Linked DNA regions of Homo sapiens: region 1 is linked to region 2. A link means that fine-mapping ties the variant in region 2 to the expression of a gene that starts in the linked region. Tissue or cell type: cerebellum. Region 2 holds a variant in brackets; the other region holds the start of a gene. All regions are shown on one strand. Distances are between the middles of the regions.

Evidence for each region. PIP is the estimated chance that this variant, and not a neighbour inherited with it, causes the effect.
Region 1: it holds the start of MOV10L1, and the variant in region 2 is fine-mapped to the expression of MOV10L1 in cerebellum (GTEx, PIP 0.99).

What each region holds. Positions count from the first base shown.
Region 1 is chr22:50,086,853-50,094,930 of GRCh38, reverse strand. MOV10L1 (Mov10 like RNA helicase 1) reads right to left here and starts at 4,925. Exons shown (of 27, transcript NM_018995.3): 1 at 4,746-4,925; 2 at 2,746-2,930. The coding sequence starts at 4,842.
Region 2 is chr22:50,142,587-50,150,667 of GRCh38, reverse strand. It overlaps MOV10L1 (Mov10 like RNA helicase 1), which reads right to left. Exons shown (of 27, transcript NM_018995.3): 17 at 7,447-7,625; 18 at 6,425-6,571; 19 at 4,858-4,979; 20 at 954-1,053. Among named protein-coding and RNA genes, the nearest start is that of PANX2, 24 kb to the left of the region's middle. The variant G/C (reference allele first, on the strand shown) is at 3,434.

The DNA.
Region 1 (8,078 bases), 56 kb after region 2:
TTAGTTTTAATAAATCGAAACTGCTGCACATGAGTGGTGGCTACCATATTGAATGATGGAATTCTAGACTTTGAATTATTTTATTGGGTATGCTTTTTTTTTAATTTGAGAAAGATGATACTAAGCATTAGATGGTACTAACTATAATAGTATAATAAAGTACATCTCAAGTATTTTTAAAAAGTAGTTAATAGCTCAATACGTTTGCCAGATTCCAAATTACATTTAAAAATCGCTGGGCATGGTGGCTCATGCCTGTAATCCCGGCACTTTGGGAGGCCGAGGTGGCGGATCACGAGGTCAGGAGATCGAGACCATCCTGGCTAACACAGTGAAACCCCATCTCTACTAAAAATACAAAAAATTAGCTGGGCGTGGTGGCAGGCGCCTGTAGTCCCAGCTACTCTGGAGGCTGAGGCAGGAGAATGGTGTGAACCCAGAAGATGGAGCTTGCAGTGAGCCAAGATCATGCCACTGCACTCCAGCCTGGGTGACAGAGCGAGACTCCGTCTCAAAAAAAAAAAAAAAAAATTGAAAGCTTTCCCATACAGGAAGAAAAAGATTAATTTGAAAATACGATGGAAAATGATGTTAATAGAACACATAAAAACTCCTGAAAATAAATTTAGTAAGAAATTTACAGGACCTAAAAGAAGAAAACTATTGAACTATAAAAAGAATACAAAGGAAGGCTTAAATAAATGGACAGACATATGGAAAAGACTCCATATGACCCAAATATCAATTATTCTAAATGAAATGCATAAACTCAGTGCCATCCAAAGCAAATCTGGGCAGAGGGGGAGAAACAAGATTCCAAACTCATCCAGAACATGTGAAGAGCCAGAAAAATACCATATGCTAATAAGAGCAAAGAAGGGAAACCTGCTCACCACCTATCACAGCAACCATGCCATGGGGCCCCCTTACAAGCATCAGGACCACATCACATGCAGGTGGGATTCTGATACATGATTAAGGAATTTTCCAAATCAGCAGGGAAAAAGTGAGCTACTCAGATGACTGGCTAGCCATTAGGAAAGCAATGTCTGGTTCCTTCTCTCAGTCTGTGCACCCAAATAAATTCCAGGCAGGTCAAATATTTAAATATCAACAAACAGGCCAGGCATGGTGGCTCATGCCTGTAATCCCAACACTTTGGGAGGCCGAGGTGGAAGGACCACTCGAGGCCAGGAGTTTCAGATCAGCCTACGCAACACAGTGAGACGCCATTTCTACAAAAAAATTTTAAAAATTAGTCAGGTATGATGGTGTACACCTGTGGTCCCAGTTACTCAGGAGGCTGAGGTGGAAGAATCGCTTGAGCTCAGGAGTTCCAGGCTGCAGTGAACTATAATCGCACTACTATACTCCAGCCTGGGCGACAGCGCAAAGCTCTGTCTCAAAAATTGAAAAAAAAATTCTAATTGTCAATAAACAATTTTCAGAGTAAAATTTGAATATTAGGAATAAGAAGTGGAATAAGCCTCCCTAAGGCTTCTTACAGCATCCAAAAGCTACATGGAAAAGAGGCACACTTAACTACAAAAAATGAAACTATAAAACACAGTCAAAGATGATCCTGGGGAAAATATTCCTAACACTTTCATATAATAATTTTCCTTAAAAAGCTCTGATTTCCCTAATATATAAGCTTTAACAAAAGAAAAAGCTGAACTCAACAAAAATGTGGACAAAGGACCCAAAAATAATTCATAGAAAAAACATGAGGCCGGGCGCGGTGGCTCACACCTGTAATCCTAGCACTTTGGGAGGCTGAGGTGGGCAGATCACGAGGTCAGGAGCTCCAGACCATCCTGGCTAACACGGTGAAACCCCGTCTCTACTAAAAATACAAAAAAATTAACTGGGTGTGGTGGTGGGTGCCTGTAGTCCCAGCTACTCAGGAGGCTGAGGCAGGAGAATGGCGTGAACCCAGGAGGCGGAGCTTGCAGTGAGCTGAGATTGCGTCACTGCACTCCAGCCTGGGCGACAGAGACTCCGTCTCAGAAAAAAACAAAAACAAAAACAAAAAGAAAAAGAAAAGTTACCATACTTAAGGCTTAAGTGCAAATTAAGTGCAGTCTCTCATTCTGCTCCTAAGAGTATAAATTTGTATATTATTGATGTTACTTTGGTGATAACCATTAAATTGTTGAAAAAGCAAGAAAATAATGGATATATAATTGCTATGTTCTCCACAGCATAAATTCATAGGCAAACTTTACTTTCTAAAGTATACATGTCTATGTTGTTTGAATGATTTACAAAGACTGCTGTTTGTTTATTTATTGAGACAGGGTCTTGCTCTGTCATCCAGGCTGGAGTGTGGTAGTGCAATCATAACTCATTGCAGCCTTGACCCTCTGGGCTCAAGCGATCCTCCCGCCTCAGCCTCCCATGTAGCTGGGACTACAGGTATGTGCCACGACACCAGGCTAACTTTTGTGGGTTTTTTTTTTGTAGACACGAGGTTTCACCATGCTGCCCAGGCTGGTCTCTTAACACCTGAGCTCAAGTGATCTGCCTGTCTCAGCCTTCCAAAGTGCTGGGATTACAGGCGTGAGCCACTGTACCCAGTCTATTTTTTAAAACATAAATCATAAAGAGCAAAAGCATCCCCTTGAAGGTACATTCCACTCTTTCTCCCTTGGCCGGGTCATGTCTGATAGATTAAACACAAGGAAAAACAACACAAAGTCCCGTGGCGAAGAAAAACTGTTCCCAAATGAACTCAAACCTTACCCTGATTGCTTTCAGTCCATTGGACACTTTATTTTCTTCCACAACTGCAATCACTTCCTGTCCAACATTCAGAAGCACTCTGCTAGTCACAGCATCACTGGAGAAGTAGATCATATCATCAATCATGCCATAATCGCTGCAGTACCTTGTCACGACACCCCGTACAGTTTTCAGCTTAGTGTCACCTGAGGTAGGTAAACAAAGAAGTTATCTTGGCCATAAAAGCAAGCGTACGCTACAGTGAACCCCACCAGAGAAAGGCAGAGTGCAAAAGCCTCCTTTTTTTGCAGTTCGGAGGCACTGACTCCGAACGGGCTGACTTGAGACAGAGAGAATCCCATCAGAGAGTGCTGTGTCTGGAACGTGGGGTTTGGAGGCAGACAGCCCAGTTTCCTCAGAAGGGCACAGGTAGTGGTTGTGGAGGTGACAGCCCTGACTCCACAACAGACTGCATGGGGTTGACTCCTAGCTCTTCTACTGCCATTGGTGTAACCCTGGACTAGGTCCTTAACTACTCTGGGCCTGTTGCCATCTGTAAGATGGAGACTAATCGTCACTACCCAAGAGAGCTGCTGAAGGGTTAAGTGGCAGAACACACGTGCATGTATGGACCTCTGCGTGGCTGACACGCGTTAAGTGCTATGTAAATGGCCACTTATATCAGCATCTGGGAGTCATTAGCATGCACGGTTTTATTAGTACTATCGATTATCTTTTTATTACCATCAGCAGCAGCCTCGGAAGACTGGAGAATCTCAACAAACACGGTGCTGGAAAAGGTTCGGGGCTGGGCAGACAAGTCTGGCCCAGGAGCAGCGCACGCCCTCAGCCGTCTGGCCACTGCTGCAGCCACGGTCCTGAGTCCTGAACGTGCCTTTACTGCAGCTTCCCAGCCACGGGAGGAACCTGGGGCGACGGTTACAGTACAGGCATAGGATCTGAGCGCTGCCAAGAGCTGGAGCTCCAGCTACCGCTGAGCGCGTGTTCTACCGAAGAGATCCACGGAGCAAGTGCTCCAGGTAACACAGCCGGCCCCCCGGGCATCGGCCCTCGTGGATCCAGAGGCCCTGAACACGCTGCCTGCAGCAGGAAGCTCCCCTCCTGAAGCCTGTTCCTGTCTTTTCTCACAGAAGGCAATTAGGGACCCACTACTGTGGATTCCATTCCCACATAAGGAAACATCGGGAGAAGCCATCAGAACCTCGGGAGAGGTCGGGCGTGGTGGCTCAAGCCTGTAATCCCAGCACTTTGGGAGGCCAAGGTGGGTGGGTCACCTGAGATCAGGAGTTCGAGACCAGCCTGACCAACATGGCGAACCCCCCCTCGACTAAAAATACAAAAATTAGCCGGGCGTGGTGGCGGGTGCCTATAATCCCCGCTGCTCGGGAGGCTGAGGCAGGAGAATCACTTGAACCCAGAAGGCGGAGGTTGCGGTGAGCCGAGATTGCGCCACTGCACTCCAGCCTGGGCAACAAGAGCGAAACTCCGTCTCACACACACACACACACAAACACCTCAGGAGAAAGGAACGGTGAGGGCATCCGGGCGCATCCCGGGCTTTAGAAAGATGGGCTTGAAAACCAGACAAGGAAATGGCACGCCTTGGCGCAGCGCGTTCTGAAAGGACAGGCCAAGTCTGCGGGGCCGCGTTTTTCGGGGCTTTCTAGACACACCACCGCCAATGACGCTGCGGACAGGGAGGAACGACATGGAGAGACGACTTGGCAGCTGCTCGGCGTAAACACACAAAGTGAGGGCGGGAAGAGGGGCTGGTGTCACCGGAGAGACCTCACAGAGGACGGGCGCCCAGAGCGGCGGGATGCTGTGGGGTCGGAAGCCTCCTGAGGCGAACGGGGATCCCCGCCAGCGGAGATGAGGAAAGGCCGGGCCCAGCGTTGCCTGCCGGCCCGCACTGCACTCAAAGACCTATGGGCGCGGCTCCCTCGTGGCCGACACGCGAGGGCCCGGGACCCGCCTCCCAGCCGCCTCCCGCGAGCCACCTTCCGCGAGCTCGGGCTCCAGCTGCCCGGCTTCCTCCCTAGGGGTGTCCGCCGTCCTCCAGAAGAAGGCCACCAGCTTGGCTGCGAGGCTCAGCATGGCCCTCGCCCGGCCTAGGCTGCCGTCACCGCCGCTGCCGCCGCCCGCACGCGCCCGCGCCGCTCCCGCCGCCCGCCACCAATGGGGTCGCCGCGCCTGGGCATGCGCCTTGGGGTCGTTGCGCGAGCCGGGACCCGTAGCGGTCAGAGGTCGGCGGTTGGCGCCTGGCAGCTCCTGACAAGGCGAGGTGCCTGGTGGGAGTGACGTCATGCCGAGCGCGCAAGGCGGTGTGACCGCCGGGTGGGCGGGGCTTCGAGCGGGCGGGCGGGGCCTCGCGTGGGTGGGCGGAGCTTCGAGCGGGTCCGCCTTCTTGCCGCCCACACATTAGGGAAAAGTGCGCTTTCACCACCCAGAGTGATGTTAGGAGTCGTTTTTTGTTGGTGTTTTTTATCAAGTTGAGGAAGTTCCCTCTATTCCTGTTTTTCCAAGAGTTCTTATGAGTGGGTGTGAAATTTTCTGCAACGCTTTTCTGCATGTATTCAAATGATCCTGTAGCTTTTTATTTCAGCCCATAGGGAATTACATTGTTTGGCTCTCCTTGGAAAACTCACTTGGTCACGATTCGTTATCCTTTTGGTGTATTGCCTGACTCAGCTTGGTAACGCTTTGTCCAAGGTTGGGGACGGTGCTGGTGAAGCAGATTGCTCTGTGGCCGACCTCCCGTTTTCTGTGTCTGTCTGGTTTGGGGTCGGTTTAAGCCGGGCCTGCAGTGACCTGGGAGTAGGATGGGGTAACTTATTCCCTAAAAATTGTGGTAGTATTCGCTGGGGAACCCATTTGGGCTTCGAGATTTCTTTGTGGGAAGGTTTTTAATGAGAAATTCACTTCTGCATCAGCTAGAGGGCTATTCAAGTTATCAAGGTAATATTGAATAAACTTTGGTAATTCTTTTAAGGAATTTGTCCATTTCATCCAATTATTAGATGTCAGATTATTGGCATAAAGTTGTTCAGCATATTTCCTTATTATCCTTTTAACGTCTGTATGGTCCATAATGATGAGCCATCTTTCATTCTTGACATAGGTAATTTATCTCATCCCTCTCATTTTCCTTGATCAGTCTATATTTATCAATTTTATTGAGTTTTTAAAAAAAATCATCCCTTGATTTCATTGATTTTTCTCTATTTTAAAAATATCTTTACACTTTGCGAGGCCAAGGTGAGCAGATCACTTGAGGTCAGGAGTTCGAGACCAGCCTGGTCAACCTGCCAAAATCCTGTCTCTACAAAAAAATACAAAAAAAATTAGCCAGGCATGGTGGCGCATGCCTGTAATCCCAACTACTTGGGAGGCTGAAGCAGAAGAATCACTTGAACCCAGGAGGTGGAGGTTGCAGTGAGCTGAGATCACACCACTACACTCCAGCCTGGGAGACAGAGCAAGACTCTGCCTCAAAACAAAAACAAAAACAAAATACGTATATATATCTTTACTATTCCAGTGGTTTCTGTTTTTTATTATTTCTTTTTTTTTTTTTTTGAGATGGAGTCCTGCTCCGTCGCCCAGGCTGGAATGCAGTGGCATGATCTTAGCTCACTGTAGCCTCCACCTCCCGGGTTCAAGTGATTCTCCTGCCTCAGCCTCCAGAGCAGCTGGGATTACAGGCGTGCGCCACCACGCTGGCTTTTTTTTTTTTTTTTTTTTTTTTTTTTTTTTGTATTTTTAGTAGCGACAAGGTTTTACCATGTTGGTCAGGCTGGTCTCGAACTTCTGACCCGCAGGTGATCCACCCGCCTTGGCCTCCCGAGTGCTGGGATTACAGGTGTGAGCCACTGCGCCCAGCCCCGACTTATTTTTGATTGACATAGCTTTATTTTCCTAGGTCAGATCTGTCAGTCTGATGACAGCCTGGACCTTGCCTGTCCATGGATGCAGAGTGTACTGATAGTTCTTGCTGTGGGAAGGGAGAGAGTGGCGCACTCCCTAGCATTTCAAATCCCCGCTAAGCCTGTGTCTTGGGCTGGGTGCTGGAACACATACAGGAGCCAGCAGGGTCCCAGGGACCTACTGGTTGGTGGGAGATTAGCTTGGAAACAAGAGCGAGCTGCATGAGGGCTGGTGGCTCATGGGCTCCCTGCCAGGGCAGCTCGCAGCGGGTGCTGTGCCTGCAGGGCTGCCCCTCAGCTCCCCAGCTCGGGCCACTCCCTGGGATTCTGGACTCAGTAGACCCGGCAGATGCCCACAGACATCTCGGCCTCATCATGTCCAGAATGGAACTCCAGATCCTCGCTCCACACCTGCTCCACCCTGGTCTTCTCATCTCTGTCCTCACTGCTCAGACAGAACTCAGCAACGTCGCCCTGACAGCAGATTGCGTCCGCTCTTCAAACCCTGTTCAGAGCCCAGTCCCTCCTCACCACTTGCCCACTGCCACCTCAATGCCAGGCAGCACCTGCTCCTCCCACCCCCCAGCCTGCTCTCCACCCAGTGAGTGACCGGATGCTGCTCTGCCCAGACCCCTCCAGCAGGTCTGTCTCAGAGTTGAAGCAGAGTCGTCTCCATACCCACAGGTGCTGGCACCTGGCTGTCCTACCTGTATCCCCCTTGCATGGTCCTCGCCTGCCTTCCCCAACCTGTGGCCTTTGCTTCAACTCTGCCAGCCTCCCCTCCCTGCCTCCTTCTCACTGAGGCCTGCCCTGGCCCCTGCAAACAGCAGCCCCTCATTTCTCTCCCCTGACTTCTTTTCCCTCATAGAGGAAATCATGTGTGTCACTGGATGCATTAGTCTGTTCTCACGCTGCTATAAGGACATACCCAAGACTGGGTAATTTTAGAGTCAAGTCCTTATAAAGGAAAGAGCTTTAATTGACTCACAGTTCCACAGGGCTGAGGAGGCCTCAGGAAACTTACAATCATGGTGGAAGGGGAAGCAAACATGTCCTTCTTCACAAGGTGGCAGGAAGGAGAAGTCTTGAGCAAAAGCGGGGAAAGCCCCTTATAAAAGACCATCAGATCTCATAAGACCTCACTCATTGTCAGGAGAACAGCAGCATGGGGGTAACCACCCCCATGATTCAATTACCTCCCACCGGGCCCCTTCCACGACATGTAGGAATTATGGGAATTACAATTCAAGATGAGATTTGAGTGGGGACACAGCCAAACCATATCACTGTATAACACACTAATTTGTTTATCCTGTGCACTCCTGTGCCCCCAATGAATGTAAACAGCCTATAGGAAGGACGTCACTTCTTTGTCCACCCCATAAATGTTTGTTGAATGTTGAATGA
Region 2 (8,081 bases):
GGGAATGGGGCTGTGCGCAGGATGGCCCCATGCTCACTCTTGCTGCAGGGGACGACGGGAGGGACTGGGAGACCAGGGAATGCCGACAGGGCTTGGAGCCGTCTCTCCCCGCTTCCCCCTGAAGTCCTGCCATCTGCCTCCCCGAAGTCCTGCCATCTGCCCGGCTTCTGCAGCCTGGTTTTCTCTCCTGCGAATCTCTCAAAGTGGTAAGAGCCCCAAGGATGCCGTCTATCTTCTGGAAGCTTCTGCATGGCTGGCCCTGGCCGCCATCCCACCTGCCCCTTGCCTCTTGCCCATGGTTGCCTTGACCTGGTCAGGCCGCCCTATGCCGCTGCTCTGCCTGGACCAGTCCCTGCTCCCTCCCTAGGCGTCACCTTCATGCTCCGCCCCACAGTGCCTGGTGACTGGGACAGACATCTAGGATGGGTGCCAAGGAGGACCCTGAAATGTCCAGTGCTGGACACTGGATGAGCTCGCCTGGATGAGCCACAGTGAGAGAACCAGGGAAGTTCAAGGTGATGCCCACGCCACCATCAGAAGCACTCGGGGAGGAAGCAGGTGGGAGCAGAGAACAGAGGATGCACAGAGCTGGAGGCCAGGGCAGCCTGAGGGGCAAGTGGGTCAGATGCAGGAGCACTGGCCCTGTCCGCCCCTCCAGGCACTGAACGGCCGGCTCACCCAGAGCAGGGACCACATTCCTGACTTTACCGCTGTATCCCCAACACCTAGAATGGCTCTTACCTCCGTTTTACAAGTAAATGAGTCAAGACATTCACTTCTAGTCCAAAAGGAATAAAGTACAATAGAGACCCATGGCCCCCAACACCTCGGGGTCCTTGGCACTTCCACCTGACCCCTGTACAGCTGTGACTGTTCCCGGCAGGATCGCAGCCTGCATCCCCTCAGGAGAACGGGGTGAGGAGGAAGCAGCACACACAGTAGTCGGGACTTACCTGGCCACTGATGTCCGACATCAGCCCCAGAGGAATGAGGCATTCCGGCTCACTTGCCTGCCCAGCCTCGTCCACAAACACGTGAGTGAAGTGCCCAACTCTAGAGCAAAGATGTTCTAAATGGTAATTTCTGCCGAATTGTTTTAGCAATTGATGCCTCTGACACACTGGCAAAGCCACGCTCAGCACCCCGGGGGCACAGCAGGGTTGCCCAGGGGTGTGCAGGAGCTGGGGGTCTGGGTGTCACCCGGCTGGAGGGAGGACAGGCCACAGGTGTCAGGAGATGCTAAGCCACATCAGCACCCAGTGCTTTGCACGCAGCGTCTGTATTTCTAGAGATGTGGAGGGAAGAAGGGGTGGGAGCGATGGGCAACACACGAGCGCCTCCTGGGGGCAGCTCACAGGAGAAGCGCCGCAGGCTCCTGGCCTGCTCTCCACCTGCGTCTCACTCCTGTCATTATCAAAATGCCCAGGCTCTAGTCCTGACTTCCCCTCTCTGAGCCTCCACCTCCCACGTGTCTCTCGGGAGGTGGCTGAGGTGAGAGCAGCTGAACTGGCCGCTGTAAAGCGCTGAGAACAGGCCTGGCCATGCAGGCGGCCACAGATGGCAGCCTCTCCTGCCATCCGCTCATTTCCTCCTGACTCATCCTTGTGAGCCACTCTCAGCTGGGCACTGCCTGGCCTGCATGCCAATAGGCTGAGGCCCTGGGAGCCACTTCCCAATCTGCGGCACCATTAAGAAAATGGGGTTGGTCGGGCGCAGTGGCTCACGCCTGTAATGCCAGCACTTTGGGAGGCCGAGATGGGTGGATCACGAGGTCAGGAGATCAAGACCATCCTGGCTAACACGGTGAAACCCCGTCTCTACTCAAAATACAAAAAAATTAGCCGGGTGTGGTGGCGGGCGCCTGTAGTCCCAGCTACTCGGGAAGCTGAGGCAGGAGAATGGCGTGAACCTGGGAGGCGGAGCTTGCAGTGAGCTGAGATCGCGCCACTGCACTCCAGCTTGGGTGACAGAGCAAGACTCCATCTCATAAAAAAAAAAAAAAAAGAAAAAAAGAAAATGCGGTCTCTAGAATGGCTCCCCACAATTCTGGCCCCTGCTGCAAACTCAGTGAGGTTCCCAGCTACAGAGCAGCCCTCCTGGCGGGTACCTGTCCGGCTCTTCCTTCTCCGTGTGACAAGGGAGGTAAGGGAGGTGCAGGAGCAGAGAGTCCACAGCGTTGCTGATGGACGGGGTGGGGATTTTGCGGGAAGGAGTCGTCAGGAGAAGCTGCGGAACTCTTGCATGGGAAGGCTGTGGGACTGAGCGGAGAGCAGGAGCTCGCTCGGCACATGATCTGTTTCTAGAGTGCAGAGGGGCCACCCCACCTGGGGCCATGAGCTGAGGAACAGGTGCCCCGGCTTCCCTGGCTCGCCCACCCCAGCAGCTTCTGCTCTGTGGTCAGGAGGCCTCAGTGGGGAAATGCTCTTGGGGCAGAAACATGTCCTGATGCCTGAGGAAGCAGGTATGGGGCAGAGAGAGTGTCCGGAGCCACGCCAACACTCAACAGGACGCACCTTGGGCCCGCACCGTCCTCACTGCCGAGCCCACGTTTACCCTTCTCACTGCTGATTCCAGGATCTCCCCTCTCCAACCCTAGATGCTGGGCAAATCCATCACCTCTGAGCCTCAGGTGTCCCACTGTGGGGTGAGACCCTGTGGTCAGACCTGTGCGGGGGCGGGCTCCTGCTTACAGCAGTGCTGGGCCCAACATGTCCTGCATCCACTCACGGTCAGCTGACACCTTTCACTTCAGGTATCAATGTGTAACTCTCAAGACACGGATTTCACAAGTGACACCGTGAACCCCTCCCAGTGAAAGATGTGGAAATCAGCAAACTGCCATTTCCCCATCTCATGTCCCTATTTCTGTTGAAAAAAATTAACATTATGTATCTTTCCTAGAATGTAAGTATTTAGGTTTCAATTCTGTATTAATTGCAGTTATTTAATGTCACTTTTGCCAGATGACATTGCTACTTCTTTGCCCTTTGAAGTGCCCCTCCCCACTCCAGCCGCCCCCAGTGGCCAACTAACGCTGTGGGGCCTCTGCAGCTGGGCTGCAGCACCCTCCCTGCTTCTGCACAGAGCGCCTCTGAGAGAGCGGCCTGCAGCACCCTCCCTGCTTCTGCACAGAGCGCCTCTGAGAGAGCGGCCTGCAGCACCCTCCCTGCTTCTGCACAGAGCGCCTCTGAGAGAGCGGCCTGCAGCACCCTCCCTGCTTCTGCACAGAGCGCCTCTGAGAGAGCGGCCTGCAGCACCCTCCCTGCTTCTGCACAGAGCGCCTCTGAGAGAGCGGCCTGCAGCACCCTCCCTGCTTCTGCACAGAGCGCCTCTGAGAGAGCGGCCTGCAGCACCCTCCCTGCTTCTGCACAGAGCGCCTCTGAGAGAGCGGCCTGCAGCACCCTCCCTGCTTCTGCACAGAGCGCCTCTGAGA[G/C]AGCGGCCTGCAGCACCCTCCCTGCTTCTGCACAGAGTGCCTCTGAGAGAGCGGCCTGCCCTGGCCGGCCACCTCCTCCCACTACCTGAACATCAGCTCCAGGGTGCAGGGTCCATGCAGTGCCCGCTCTGCCCCCAAAGAGCCCTCTGCACCCCAGTGAGGACTGGCTCTTCGGCTCTTGACCTTTGACTCATCAACACACATTAACAAAAAAAATCCCTGTCTTGTTCAGATCCGTGCTGTCCAATCCGGTAGCCACACACGGCTCTCGGGCACCGCACAGTGGCTAGTCTGAAACCTGACATGCTCTAAGTGTAAAATACATGGTGGATTTTGAAGACTTGAACCAAAAAAAATGTAAAGTGTCTCATCAATCACGTTCTACTAATCTCATGATGAAAGGACATCATGTATGTGAGAGAGTTAAACGCGCCGATGAAACCATCCGTGACACGCTGTGATAGGCGTGGCTGGCTGTGCCTTTGCTCCATGTGGAGCTGACGGACCACCTCCTGTGGTCACCCTCACGACCACCGTGACGCTGGACACTGTCCAGGGTGACCTGTCTCCAGGCTGTCAGGGAGGGTCACGACCACTGTGACGCTGGACACTGTTCAGAGCGACCTGTCTCCAGGCCGTCAGGGAGGGTGGGGCTTCCCTCAGAGGCCCTGGCTTCTCCCTCTCTCACCCTCAGCCTGTGCCCCCGACACTGTCTGGCTCTATGCACTGAGAGGGAGCTGCCTGCTGCCTCCCCGACCCCACCCCCCTGCACTGGGGTCTGAGAGTGCCTTGGTCCTCACTCAGCCTCCCTGGGCTCGAAGCTCTTCCTCCCAGCCCCCAGGGGAGGTCCTCCTATGACAGCCGGCACCCCACAATCCATCTCCTCCGCCTGTCTCCCCTGAAGAGCCCCCAGCGCCAGGGACACAAATGGCCCCCAGGGTCTGACCTTACAGAGCCCAGCCGTTTCCTAGGCAGCCTGCCTCCCCACGCCCACTCCAAGAGACTCACTCTCCTGCTCAGAAGCCCTTCACTGGCTTCCCGGCTCACCAGAGGTCGTCCAAAGGCCCCTCCACAGCCCGCCAGGCCTCCCCCTCACCACCCCTTTCAGGCCGTTCCTGCTCACGAGGCTCTGGCTCTACAGTCTCCTTTGGGGAGACCTCAGTGCTCCCCCACCGCGGGGCCTCTGCATGGGCCAGTCCATCTGCCTGCCCATCCCACTGCTGGCTCCTTCGAGTCCTTGGGGTCTCGGCTTCCCCAGCTCCATTCAGGCACGGCCCTCCCCAACCAGCCTTTCTCGCCCACAGCCCTGCCTCCCTCCCTGAGCACTGAGTCTCTGGGTCATCCGCCCCTCAGACAGAAGCTAGGAGAGGACTCCGACCTCTGCCCTGGGAGGCCCCATGCCGCGCTCCATGCCCGGGGCTCACCTCACTCCTATTTGGTAAAACAGCCCTGAGCTGCTGCATGTGGTGATGATTATCCGGAAGCGTGAGGCTTTCCAGATGTCTTCTCCGTCTCTGCAATACGGTTTGACGGCGTCAATAACTATCTGGGGGCAAGGAGGCGTAGAGTTAGTTTACTCCTCCAATTATTAAGCAGAATTCCAAAAGGGAACCTTGCCCTGGTACCACTTCTTAGTTACGTCTAAGTCATGATTTAAGGTTTTTTTCTCAAAATATCTCATACTTCCTTATCAATTCAGTCCATGTTTTATCAACTCTAGAGCCACAAATATAACACATAATCCTGCAGACCCTTCCCCAAAACAACTTTGTACATTTTCTATTCAGTTTGTTTGTTTGTTTATTTAGAGAGGGAGTCTTGCTCTTGCTCTGTCGCCCAGGCTGGAGTGCAATGGTGCAATCTCGGCTCACTGCAACCTCTGCCTCCCAGGTTCAAGTGATTCTCCTGCTTCGGCCTCCGGAGTAGCTGGGATTACAGGCGCATGCCACCACGCCCAGCTATTTTCAATGTCTTTTTTAAACGCAATATTTCAGGCTGGGCACAGTGGCTAAAGCCTGTAATCTCAACACTTTGGGAGGCAGAGGCGGGTGGATCACTTGAGATCAGGAGTTCGTGACCAGCCTGACCAACATGGTGAAACCCTGTCTCTACTAAAAATACAAAATTAGCTGGATGTGGTGGCACACACCTGTAATCCTAGGTACTTAGGAGGCTGAGGCAGGAGAATTGCTTGAACCCGGGAGGCGGAGGTTGCAGTTAGCCAAGATCACACCACTGCACTCCAGCCTGGGCAACAAGAGCAAAAACTCTGTCTCAAACAAACAAAAAAATAAAAGCAATACTTCGCTCTATAACCAAACCAGCAACTTAAAGGAATACTTAAAACCAAACCAGGCCGGGCACGGTGGCTCACGCCTGTAATCCCAGCACTTTGGGAGGCCGAGGCGGGCAGATCATGAGGTCAGGAGATCGAGACCATCCTGGCTAACACGGTGAAACTCCGTCTCTACTAAAAATACAAAAAATTAGCCGGGCGCAGTGGCGGGTGCCTGTAGTCCCAGCTACTTGGGAGGCTGAGGCCAGAGAATGGTGTGAACCTGGGAGGCGGAGCTTGCAGTGAGCCGAGATCATGCCACTGCACTTCAGCCTGGGCGACACAGCGAGACTCCGTCTCAAAAAAAAAAAACAAAACAAAACAAAAAACACCAAACCAACAAAACAAAACTACTTAAAAAGTAACAAGACGTTTGGGGATTAAATAAAAGAGGAATGTGATAATTTTACAATGCTACGAATGCCCACAATAGGTGTGATAACTCACACAGAGTGAGAATGTGATGAAATAGTCAGCAATCAAGCTCCACCATTTAGCGGTGAGGGAGGGCCCATGGCAGAGCCATTTCTCAAACACAGCTTTCTGTGGCGCCTCTGTGCCCACCCTCCTACCCCTGCCCTCCCCTGTCCACTTGGCATTTCCTATGTTCCAGGGAGGGGTTCTGGTGCCCCCCACTGCTTGCACCAAGGGCTCACCTCCTCGAACCTGCAGGTGGCGTTCACCCGGACCATGGTGGCCGGCTGTAGCACCTTGCTCTCGTGCAGCCGCAGACACACGAGGTCAGCAGCACTGTTGGAGGGCGCACAGACTAAAATCCGACTGTCCGGCAAGGCAAAGTGTACCTTCATCAAAGACACACAAGAGACCAAGGCTCAACATCCACACCGCAAGGTGGAAACCAGGAGTCTAACCTCAACACACACATTCGGGTGCAGGGACTCAGCTGCATGGGCTCAGATGCCAGCCCCCAACACACTGAGACCTGGGCCACGACTCTGCCTCATCACACTGCTGCCAAAGCATGGGTTAGGTGGGAAGGTTCTCCGCACTCTCTAAGATTCTAAACCACCTTTCAGGGCAGAAACAGAGTCAGATTCATCTGCACACATCTGGCGTGTGGTACAATTGTGCGCTCAATACCTGTTTGCTAATTTGAATCCTGAATGACGCTAAATGTAGATGGTCTTCGGCTTATGATGGTTTGACTTAACGCTTTTTTGACTTTATGATGGTGTGAAGACCATCCCCAGTCAGTCTGCTCCTCACCTGACAAGGGATCATGCCTTGATGAACCTGAAACAGGCTTCCCAAATCCCATTACGATGGGTTATTGGGTTGTAACCCCATCAAAAGTTAAGAAGCATCTGTAGACAATAGTTTCATAAACTTAACTTCAATTACAAATGAAGATATCTAAAACTTCTGTGGAATGGTGGCTGTAGCTACTATAAGAGTAACTTCTTTTCTGCAGCAAAATGTCATGATTCAGATAAAATAGTTTACCAGGCTAAAAATGAGTTTCCTTCTAAACCTATGAAATAAGCTTTTAAATCCCTACATATCCACAAAAACAGACTTAACATTATGAAATAACTGGTATTTCTCAAGCTCTTTCCAACTGTCTGATTCTACAATCTAAACTCACACTTCCTGAAGACACAGACGACACATGAACAGCAGCACAGAGCCACAGCACCCGCGGCGCCGCTGTCCTTACCTGTAAAACAGCCTCTATTATTGTCACTGTCTTTCCAGTACCAGGAGGTCCAAAGAGAATATACGGGAGGGGACGGCAGTCACCACTCAGAATCCTTTTAACTGCTAACTTCTGATTTTCATTTAGCACTGGGTTGAAAAACTCCATCTTTCTTGCTTTAGGGGTCTGAATTTCATCTACTGTATTCAAAGTGAAGAAAGTTTCAGTTAGATGCAAACAGCTCTCAACAGCTGTGGACACGTCCTCACCTAGGTCAGGCGTCAGCACGTCTGTGCAAAGGCTAAATCAGAGTCACAGACAGGGAGTAGCTCTTCAGTGTGACCAGGGGTAAGATGCGCACAGGGCATTCCTCTTAATAATCTGTTTGCATTTTTTTTTTCTTTTTTGAGACAGGGTCTCGCTCTGTCACCCAGCTTGGAGTACAGTGGCACAATCTCAGCTCACTGTAACCTCCATCTCCTGAGCTCAAGCGATCCTCCCACGTCAGCCTCCCGGGTAGCTGGGACCACAGGCGCCCACCACCACACCTGGCTAATTTTTGTATTTTTTTTTTTTTATAGAGACAAGGTTTCGCCATGTTGTCCAGGTTGGTCTCGAACTCCTGAGCTCATATGATCTGCCCACCTTAGCTTCCC